Regions from separate parts of the Homo sapiens genome. Here region 1 is linked to region 2. Evidence: fine-mapped expression QTL. A gene starts in region 2. The other region holds a variant in brackets. All regions are shown on one strand. Distances are between the middles of the regions.

The links. PIP is the estimated chance that this variant, and not a neighbour inherited with it, causes the effect. A credible set is the group of variants that fine-mapping cannot tell apart.
Region 1: its variant is the best candidate, but not a certain one, in a credible set for the expression of PDGFRB in tibial artery (GTEx, PIP 0.59).

What each region holds. Positions count from the first base shown.
Region 1 is chr5:150,063,272-150,068,637 of GRCh38, reverse strand. CSF1R (colony stimulating factor 1 receptor) reads left to right here. Exons shown (of 21, transcript NM_001288705.3): 10 at 308-423. Among named protein-coding and RNA genes, the nearest start is that of CSF1R, 21 kb to the left of the region's middle. RefSeq lists enhancers at 1-701, 1,628-1,677 and a silencer at 3,628-3,803. The variant T/C (reference allele first, on the strand shown) is at 2,606.
Region 2 is chr5:150,153,690-150,159,055 of GRCh38, reverse strand. PDGFRB (platelet derived growth factor receptor beta) reads left to right here and starts at 3,211. Exons shown (of 23, transcript NM_002609.4): 1 at 3,211-3,659. RefSeq lists an enhancer at 505-1,293.

The DNA of each region.
Region 1 (5,366 bases), 90 kb after region 2:
AGAGGTTTCTTGCACTGGCAGAGGGTGAGACTGCATGACCCCAGAGGCTCCCTACCCCCAGCCACAGGAGGCTGTGACTCTGGACAGGGTTTGGGGCTGGGCATGAGCAGAGCTGAAGAGGCCGTCCTCTCTGCCTTTCTCGGGGAGGGTGTGCAGGAGAGGCTCCAGAGGCTTCCAGTGGAGGATGCTTCATTCAGTCAACAAGCATTTATTGAGCACCCACTGTGTTCCAGGCAGTGTGCAGGCCTGACCTCAGGGGGCTCGGAGGCACCCCTGCCTGCTCACTGCTTTGCTTCATGCCTTCCAGGAGCCCACACGCATCCCCCGGATGAGTTCCTCTTCACACCAGTGGTGGTCGCCTGCATGTCCATCATGGCCTTGCTGCTGCTGCTGCTCCTGCTGCTATTGTACAAGTATAAGCAGGTGAGCCGGAGCGGAGTGGGGCTGCCAGGTGCCTGAGTGAGCCAGATTTGGATGGTACCCCCAGGCTGCATGGATTCACCCTTCCTCCTCCTCAGTCAGTCCATCAGCTAACAGCTCTTTAGTGGGTGCCTACTGTATGCCAACATGAGTCAGCTGCTGGGTGGCCTCTGAGGCTCTGCCCTAATAGCGTTTACTGTCTAGTGCGAGAGACAGGTGCTAATCAAATAGCCATTAAAGCAAGGGCACACCTGTAATCCCAGCTACTTGGGAGGTTGAGGCAGGGGGATTGCTTGAGGCCAGGAGTTAGGGACCAGCCTGGGTGATACAGCCAGATCCCAGCTCAAAAAACAAACAAAAAGCCGTGAAAGCAAGAGCATGGATTATAGAGTGAGAGGCTATGAGGAGAGGAATGGCATTCTGAGGCAGCGCAGCCCTGGGATCCTGTCTCAGCCCAGGGGTGTCCTGGCACCCAGCACGGGGCAGAGGAAATGGATATACAAGCGTGGTGTCCCCTGGGCCAGGCCTGAGCCCTGCCCTAAGAAGCACATGGTCTAGTGAAGACGAGGGCCTGTGACCATCATCCTCTTCATTATTTCATGTTACTGTCCTATTAGCCAAAGCCACAATTTAGTGCATGTTGCGTATAGTGTGCTTCCTGTCACTGTCTGCTCAGTATATGACAGTGATTTGAGGGGCATTTTTCTATAGCATGTTACCTACATCATCTCATTTAATGCCCTCAGCAACCACTGTATGCAGCTAGCATTAGTCTGTTTTACAGAGTTGTAAACTGAGGTTCTGAGAGGTTGGGACAGTTGCCCTTGTCTACAGCTGGTCAAAGGCAGAGTCTGGTTTTTAACCCTGAAGGAGGACTCACTCCAAAGCATGTCCCAATCATTATGTGAAACATTGACTCATCTTATTTTACCCTCACAAGAAGCTGGAGGCAGGAAGTATACTAGTCAGTATCTTACCCATCAGGAAGCTGAGGCTCAGCAAGGTTAAAAAAAAAAACCCCAAGGGGCTGAGGGATAGGGTTGGCACTGGGCCCCAGGGGCTTCTGTCCCTAGAGCCCATGGCCTCCACTGCCTGCCTGCCCACACAAAGACCATGTGCAATGTGATCAGAAGCTGAGAGGACCAGGCCAGAGGGCTGTGGGAGTTCAGAGGTGGACGGACTTTTCAGGCTGGTGGGTAAGGGAGACTGCCTGGAGGAGGTGGCTTGGCATTGGTGGGACGGGCTTTGGAGGATGAGGATGCAGCAGGGGAGATGACACTAAGGGAAAGGGTACCTCTGGGGGAGAGGGCAGAGTGTGCAGAGGTGCAGGTGAGGGAAGGACCAGGGTGGGGTTGGGGGTCTGAAGGGTTGGACCCCACCCTGTCGGTCCAAGGCCATCAGTGGGTTTGAACAAGGGAGTGGTGTGATCAAGGACTGAATGACCCATCTTGTGTCCCCTTGGCTACCTTTTCTTCCCCACACCCCCTTGGGGCTTTTGTGAGAAGAGGGCTTGAAGTGGGCAGGGTGGGAAGGATGTTGGGGGAGCCCCAGGGGCACATGGATCGGGATCTCTACTCCTGCCAGCACTCAGCATGAGAAGGCTGCTCTGAGGGCAGCCCCGGTCAATACCTCCGGATCTAGGTCCAGCTCTGACACTGTTTTGCCATGTAACCTCAGCTGACTCGCTGTCCTCTCTGGGCCTTAGTTTCCCCTCTTATACCATGGGTCTGGGTGTTCTCTAACAGCCCCTCCTCCTCTGACATGCCAAGAGCCCACTGGTGGTCTAGTTTAAGCACCAGAAACTTGGACTTCAGTGAATCTGGGTCCAAATCCTGCCTCTGCCAAGCTCTGGCTATGGGATGATGAGAAAGTTGGTGTGTCTGAGTCTCTTCTCCATTTGTAAAATGGGATCATTAACAGCCTGTTGTGAGGGATTCCGTACCACAACGCACATAGAGGACTGAGCGGGGTGCTGGACGAGACAGTCTCTGTGATGGGAGCTGCACACTCTTGTCCCAGGAGGAAGTTCGTTGGGGAACCAGAGTTAGCTCATGCCTCTTGGGATGGTGGAAGGAGGGGGAGGTCTGAGGTCGGGCATCATCTCCTTGACTACACACCCAAAGCGGTTGTTTGGCCCAGCCCACCCACCTCCAGGGACAGGACCTTACTCACTCTCGGGGCCACC[T/C]GTTCCTTCTCTGAGCAGCTCCAATGTTTGCAAAGTTCTTCCTTACATGGAACTGAAAACTGCCTCGCAGTGCCCACAGAGCTGCCAGGACAGTCATGCAGAGATTCCAGAGAAGAGCCTAGGGCCCCCTGCGGCCCTTTCTGCCTTGGGCTGGCCAGCCCCCTTGGCTGTGGTTTAGGAACTCTGTATCCCCTCTCCACGGGACCATTTTTGGAACATGTCACCTCCACACTTCCTGTCCAGGAAATTCAGCTGCCCCTGGAGCCCATGCAAGGCTGCGAGAAGACTTGCAGCTACCCTCCTCCCCTACACCCATTCACAGACCCTTTAGCTCCAGGCCGAGGTGTCCACCCATGGGAGCGGAGGGGGCAGGATGGTCATGCCCGTGCTAAGTGCCTGCCCTCCCATCCTCCTCTGCCTTGCCCCATGAGGTTCGGAGCCTTGCCCCTTCACTGGGGACTCAGCCCAGCCTCTCCTCATTGCCCAGGCCTGGGGAAAGAAGTGGCCTGTCTGTGGGGAGTGTTTGTTCTGCCTCAGGGCTGAATCATCACCTTTCTGTCCCCCAGAGTGACCACAAGGGGGGCCGTGGGGGAAGAGAAAAGGGCAGGAGTCAGCAGGCTCCCCTGGAGGAGGAGGCGCACAGGGAAATGGCTGAGGCAGCAGGGAAGGGAGGGTCCAGGGAGGCTGCTGGAAAGACTACGATTCTGGGGGCTGGAACTGAGCTCTGAGGAGCAACAGGAGGGTCCCCAAAGATTCCACTGGGAATTGTTCAGATCTCCACCTTCCTGGGATGGAGAACATCCACTCACCCAGAACCAGCAGGCCTAGATGGGGAGGGGACCGGGACTTTGTCTCCATGCCCCCTTTGGTGGGGAGGATGGGAGGAAGGGAAGAAGTCAGGGGGTGGGCCTGGGGCTTAGGCCCATTGCAAGGAATGAATGGGGTGATGTGCTTCAAGCATCTAGCCCAGCGCCCCACTCCCAGGAAGAGCTCAGGAAGAACCCGCTGCCATCATGACAATTACGTCCACCCTTCTCAGGGAGCCTCGCCCATCCCCACCTCTTGATCTCTCACTCATAGTTCTTTGGAAGAGAGGCTGCCTCTGGGTAGACGCCCATGAGCCCTTTCCAGGGATGGCACAGGTGCCCTGGGAGGTTTACATGCCCAGCAGGGGCAGGGGAGGGTTCCTGAGGCAGGCAGAAGGCAGCTTGGTCCGCTTCCAGAAATTAGGAGCCTAGGATTCAGAAATCTGAGAATCCAGCCAAACCTCCATCCTCCTTGATCCCCTCCCTTTCAACAGTGCCCCCTGCCCAGCTGGGGGCAGGGAGGGGCTGACTCAGCCCAGCTGCAGAGGGACAGAGGAACAAGAAGTGGTAAGAAAAAACAGTCTTAGCCACAGAGGCTCCTAGAGATGGAAGTGGCCAGGAGAGGCTGAAGAATCCCCTCCTTGCCTTGTTGCTGTCTTTTGGGCTGGGAAGGCACCCACGGGCAGGATTTGGATCCTCAGAGGCTTGGGAAGTTCTTCTCCCTGGGTCCCGTTTCAGACTCTCTCCCAAGCTATAACGCAGAGGCTCTGAAGTTCACCTGCAGTCCGCCCTTCCGAATCAGAGCCTGGAAGTTAGTTCCTTCTCATTTCTAATTGCAGTCTTTTCTCTCTAACTACCAGCTAGAAGTTCTTCCTGATGGTTAGCTGGAAGCTTTCTCCCTGTCTCTCTCTTTAAAAATGTCCACATTTTATTTTTGATTCAGGGGATAGACGTACAGGTTTGTTGCATGCGTATGTTTCGTGATGCTGAGCTTTGGAATATGGATCCCATCACCTGCTACTGAGCATAGCTCCCATAGTTTTTCAACCCTCGCCCGCTTCCACCCTCCCTGCTCTAGTAGCCCCCAGTGTCTGTTGGTGCCATCTTTATGCCCATGCACACTCAATATTTAGCTCCCACTTATAAGTGAGAACATGCGGTATGTAGGTTTTCTGTTTCGGTGTTAATTTGCTTAGGATAATGGCCTTCAGCTGCACCACGTTGCTGCAAAGGACATGACTGGAATCTTCTCTCTCAACCAGGACTTGCAGCTAAAGGCCAGCCTCCTCCCTAGCACCGGTCCACACTTCCTTTAAGTTTCTAGCTCGGGTGCCCAGGGAAGGAGCCCAGCTGCAGGCACAGCCAAGCTTGTCCCATCCCCAAGGCCTGGCCGGAAAGAGTTGCTCTGCTGACCCAGGGCCTCAGTGTCCTCCACCGCCCCAGCCCAGCTTCCACTTTCCCCCTCAACTTGGTCTTCCATCAGCATTTCTTGTGGGCAACCCTTAGCATGGTACTCCCCCTCAGCAGCTGACCCCTGGGCAAGAAACAGGGGCAGCCATTCCTCCTCCCCACATCCCAGGGCTTGCCTCCCCTGGCTGGGTGGTAACAGCATGGAGAGCCTAAGGAAGGAAATCAGGTCTTTCCAAAGGTGCTGGTCCTCCAGAATCTATCTAGTGGGCAGCGTCTCTCTTTCTCTCTCAAAAAGGTAAAGTCAAGGCTGGGTGCGATGGCTCACGCCTATAATCCCAGCACTTTGAGAGGCCAAGGCAGAAGGATTGCTTGAGCCCAGGAGTTTGAGCCTAGTGAGCTATGATCGTGCCACTGCACTCCGGCATGAGTGAAGGAGCAAGACTCTGTCTCAAAAAAAAAAAGTCAGATGGCGACTCACCTGTGTCAAACTCTCAGGGTCTCTCACTGCCCGGCCAGGCATGGTAGCTCATGCCTGTAATCCCAGC
Region 2 (5,366 bases):
CAGGCAGGGCTCCCCACATTCCATGCTCTGCCCACCTACTCTCAGCCCAGGCTTCCCCAAGACAGCATTGTCCAAGGCTGGACTGGGTTCCCAGTATCTGTGTAGGTGTGAGGATGTTCATAGCTTGTCCTGTCCACAGTGGGGCTGGGGGCCATGCTGACCACCCCAGGGTGATGGTGCTGCACTGCCCATGTGCCCCGTCCATTGCCGCTGAAGGCAGAGTGCACAAGGGGAATCCAAGACCCAGAAAAGGGAGGCTCCGCCCAGGAAGACACAGTGATGGAATGCTGCTCGAATGAGGAAACTCACTATTTCAGTAATAGTGTACACTTAGTACACTTCGAGGCAATGTACTAAGTCCTTTGTACAAACCGAAGAGTCTTATGAATCAGTCTTTGACTTGTCTCCATTTTCCAGAGGAGGAAACCAAGGCCAGGAGTTTAAGTGACTTGCCTAAGCTCATGTAGCTTGAAACTGGAGCAGCTGGGATTCGAACCCAGCTCTATCTCTAGCTCTCCAACCTCCTCTGTCAATCATGACAATTTTGCCCCTTGGTGAGTGCCCTGGGTTGCTCCCTGTAGCTCTGCACCTCCCACCCATATCTCAGTTGAGAGGAGGAGTGACAGTCCTGGTGCCCACCAAGGGTTAATGGCAGTAGGGGCTAAGTAATTCCAGATGGGCCTCAGGACGGCTGGGCTGGCCGGAAACTGGAGGCCGCCAGCTTCCCAGGGGAGCCACCGCCAACTGCCCCTCCCCTTTGTGCTGCATCTCTGGCCCCAGCTGTACCCCTGCCCTAGGGCCCACCAGCCTCCTCTCCCTTGCTAGAGTCCAGCTCTAAGGGAAATTGCAGACGGACCATCCCAAGGGCCTTGTAGCACAGTGAGTCCACAACTGTTATGTACAAATAGGGAAACCGAGGCTCAGGCAGGGCAAGGGACTTATTCAAGTTCTCCTGATAAGTCTGTGGCTGGGTCTTCTGACTCCCAGACTAGCTTCTTTGGGGACTAGGGGGTTGGTGTGTCTCGTGGCCTCCCCCAGGCTGGCCTGGCTGCAGAGGGTCAGCCAAGGATTCAGAGGTGAATGGCCCAGGCAGATGCTAGGAGGGGAGTCGTAAATTTCTGACGGAATCTTTGGGCACAAGAAATCCCTGTGCAAGCCTGACCTTGTGGCCTGTGGGATCTTTTCACATTCCCCTATTTCCCTGTTGCCACAAAGACCTGGCCAGGCCCCCTCTCTCGGGGTACTCTTATGGTCCCCAACCCGTGGCTGGGAACCAGTCTGAGAACACTTCTCCTTCTATGTGGTCCAGCCCAGATGCTCTGCTGGGCAATCCCGATTGGGACTAGACCAAGAAATGCAAGATAGTTGACTGTGGTGGGCATGGAATCCCAGCTCACGCAAATCCTCTGCTCTGTGAACAGGGGTCTGGGGGAAGCTGAGGAGGAAAGACTTAGCGGCGCAGAGGGAAGGAGGGCAGAGCCAGCCTCTACCTGTGTCACCTGGGACAGCTTTCTTCACCCTCTGGAATTCAGTTGCCCTGTGGGTGCAGTAGTGGGAGCAGGGGTGGTAAGCCCACTCTATATGCCCTTCTAAAATAATGCCCTTTGCCATCTGAGGGCTAGGAGTCTGTAACTGGAGATGTCTTCTGATCTGAGAAGCTGAGGGTGGAAGAAGAGACCCAGCTGGGGGAACTGGAGGAGTCTTGGCAGACCCTGGTAGGAAAGGAGAGCCAGAGAATGGAAATGGAACAAAACGGATACTTGAAAGTATCTTGTTGAGGCTGGGTGCGGTGGCTCAAGCCTGTAATCCCAGCACTTTGGGAGGCTGAGGTGGGTGGATCATGAAGTCAGGGGTTTGAGACCAGCCTGGCCAACATAGTGAAACCCGGTCTCTACAAAAAATACAAAAATAGCCAGGTGTGGTGGTGTGCGCCTGTAATCCCAGCTACTTGGGAGTCTGAGGCAGGAGAGTCACTTGAACCTGGGAGGCGGAGGTTGCAGTGAGCCTAGACTGCGCCATTGCACTCCAGCCTGGGAGACAGAGCAAGACTCCATCTCAAAAAAAAAAAAAAAAAAAAAAAGAAAGTATCTTGTTGAGTGACTGAATGAAAGAGCCACAGGGGGAACCTAGGAAGAAAGCAGGGCAGGGGGTTCATCTACACTGGAATAGGGGTCTCGGGTGGGGGTCAGATGACTTGTGTCTCTTCCATCATGTGTCTCATGAGACCTAGTTCTGCCCCAGCTCTGCCATTGCTGCGTAAGCTTGGGAAGCTTATTTTGCTCCTCTGGGCCTCAGTGTCCCCATCTATAAAATGGGGCAAATAATCCTCTCCTTGCACCCCAGGGGCTTTGAGACGTGAAAAGGAATGTATCTGTCAATATCCAGAGATATCCAATCTGTGCTGGATGACCTTGACCAAATCACATTCCCTCTCTGTGCCAATTCACCCCTGGGCCTTGGTTTGTCCTTCTGAAAAACGGCTGATCATCTTGGAGGATCTTTCCATCTCCTCCATGTCACCTCTTCTCAGCAGTGCTCTCTGATTCTCTCAGGCTTCCGTTAGGGGTCCTTCTAAATGCACTCTCAGCCTCCTGTCTGCCGACCGGGCACCTGCTTGCCCAATGAATATCTTGCTCACTAGCCTGGTGCTTCTGAGGTCAGGACCACGTCTTGCTACTGTCCCCTGCACCCAGTACAGTGTTAGAATGTAGTAAATGCTCAGTATGCTTGTTCAATGAATGAAGGTTGACTGAATCAACCACAGAGATGATCAGAGTCTCCTTTACAGATGGGGAAACTGAGGCACTGAGAAATGATCTCCCTGGGTGCCATGGCAAGGGGAGGCCGCCACCCGACATGGGCATCGGGAAAGTGGGGCCGAGGCCACTCTTTGACAAAAGTGACTCAGCAGCTGGCGGCTGGCGTGGGCTGTGGAATTTCTAAGCATCCCCTCACATCCTGAGCGAACGGGCGATGGGAGGGAGTAAGCAGAGTGAAAAGAAGAAAAACAAGAAACTTGGGGGAAAAGAAAGAGAGAGGGGGAAAAAAACTGAAATTGAAAACAGACGCACGCGTCCACCCTCCCTGCCCCGCCGCCCCCCCTTCTCCCAGCTGGGCCAATCAGAAGCCACCCTGCAGCCTTTCCCCCAAAGTGGCGGGGGAAGTGGGGGGGCATGGAAGCCCATAGTGGTGTGAGCTCCTGAGGCTGCCAGCAGCCAGCAGTGACTGCCCGCCCTATCTGGGACCCAGGATCGCTCTGTGAGCAACTTGGAGCCAGAGAGGAGATCAACAAGGAGGAGGAGAGAGCCGGCCCCTCAGCCCTGCTGCCCAGCAGCAGCCTGTGCTCGCCCTGCCCAACGCAGACAGCCAGACCCAGGGCGGCCCCTCTGGCGGCTCTGCTCCTCCCGAAGGATGCTTGGGGAGTGAGGCGAAGCTGGGCCGCTCCTCTCCCCTACAGCAGCCCCCTTCCTCCATCCCTCTGTTCTCCTGAGCCTTCAGGAGCCTGCACCAGTCCTGCCTGTCCTTCTACTCAGCTGTTACCCACTCTGGGACCAGCAGTCTTTCTGATAACTGGGAGAGGGCAGTAAGGAGGACTTCCTGGAGGGGGTGACTGTCCAGAGCCTGGAACTGTGCCCACACCAGAAGCCATCAGCAGCAAGGTAAGTGCTGGAAAAAGTGGGAACCCCAGCCCCATGCCCTGTCCCTTTGCCCTAACCTGCATCTCTTCGAGTAGGTAAAAAAAAAAAAAAAAAAAAAAAGGGAAGATATTTTTAACAAAACAAGATGAGAGGAGGCTGGGAGACTGTGGGTGATGTCAGGGATGGAGGAGCCAGTTTTCTCCTTTCCCCTGCTCTGGGGTGAGTGGCCTCCACCTCATCATCCCTGCTGCTCCTGCCTTCATCAAACAATCCTCAGGGGTTTCTGGGTGCTGACTGGGGGCCTCCAAAGCACAGCACAGTCAATGGGGAGTGGGGAGAGCTGGGAAGAGCGGGAGAGGGGAATTGGGAGAAGGTAGGCAGGGTACACAGAAAGCAGGGGACTGGGGACCTCAGGACCATAGCCGCTGTTCCTTGGCCCAAGCCTTGTTTCTAAGAATCAGTCTGGCTTTAGGCCAGTCAGCCGCCAGGCAACCTCTGGGGATTTAAATGGATTTGCAAATTTTCTAGATTCTTAAGATATCCTTCTAAACCCCCAGCAGCTAGAAAAGTTTGAGGGCTAGGAAAGTTCGAGGGTGATGGGCGGCCATGGCAACCCCCTAGCGGTCATGCTGCTGGGTCTGGGGGCTGGGACCTGGCTGTCAGATCTGGGGGCTCCTCTGTGAAGAAGGGGTCAGCCACTGGGCCATTTCCTTTGGTCCCAGGCAGCTGCTCAGGCCTCCTCGTTGTCTCCCTCCTTCTGGACTCTACCCCTTCTCCATGCCATTCTAAAGCATAAATCCAATCACACCACCTCCCTGCCCAGGATCCGCCTATGGCTCCCCAGTGCCTGGAGAAAGTCCCAGCTCCTAACAGAGGCTGCCACTGCTTGACACTTACTGCACGCCGCAACTGTGCTGAGTGCTTTATGAGACTGATCTCATGTAATGCTCACCAGCAACCCCAGAGGCAGTGACTGTTTTTACCTCCGTTTTATACATGAGGAACTTGAGGCTCACGCAGCCACATAACTGTAGCCACACAGCTAGTAAGTGGCACAGCCTGGAGAGGTTGGAATCTCCCCGTGCCCCATTACTCCAAACTTGGGCCTTTTGTTCCCGCCAGTCAGATCCCAGAATTCCCAGAAGGAATGCGCACCATCCTGCTTGTGGGCATTTGCCCTCCCTCTTCCCCCTTTCTGGAATGCCCTTCCTCATCACTTTTCTTTCAGGGATATTCCATACACCACCTCTTCCAGGCAGCCTTCCTAGGTTCTTCCTGTCTTCCAAGTGCTAGCCATGCACTTTGTGCTGAAGCCATGTTACTTGGCCCTCCCCTGTTGGTGATCTGTTTATGTTCTGTTTGTTCATCAGAGATTGTTCAGGCCCCAGCAGTCAGAACTGAGGCCGCACTTTCTGCTGGGGAAAGGTTTAAGGTTTCCCCATCCTGTGCTCTTCCCCCAGTGCCCAGCCCTGGATAGGCAGTGCGGCTGAAAAAATGTCCTGGTGAAAGGGAGGAGGAGCTCACTGAAGACCTTCTGCTCCCAAGTGTGAGACTAGAACCCAGGCCTCCAGCCTTCTCACAGGTGCCCTTCCAGGACATCGTGTGGCTACTCCAGGCAGCATTCCTCCATTGCAAGCAGGGAGGAGTATCTCTGCTTCCCTCTGTGACCTCCCAATTGCACAGAGGCCTCTAGTGACAAGTTCTGAAGTCATGCAGTCCTCCCCTGTC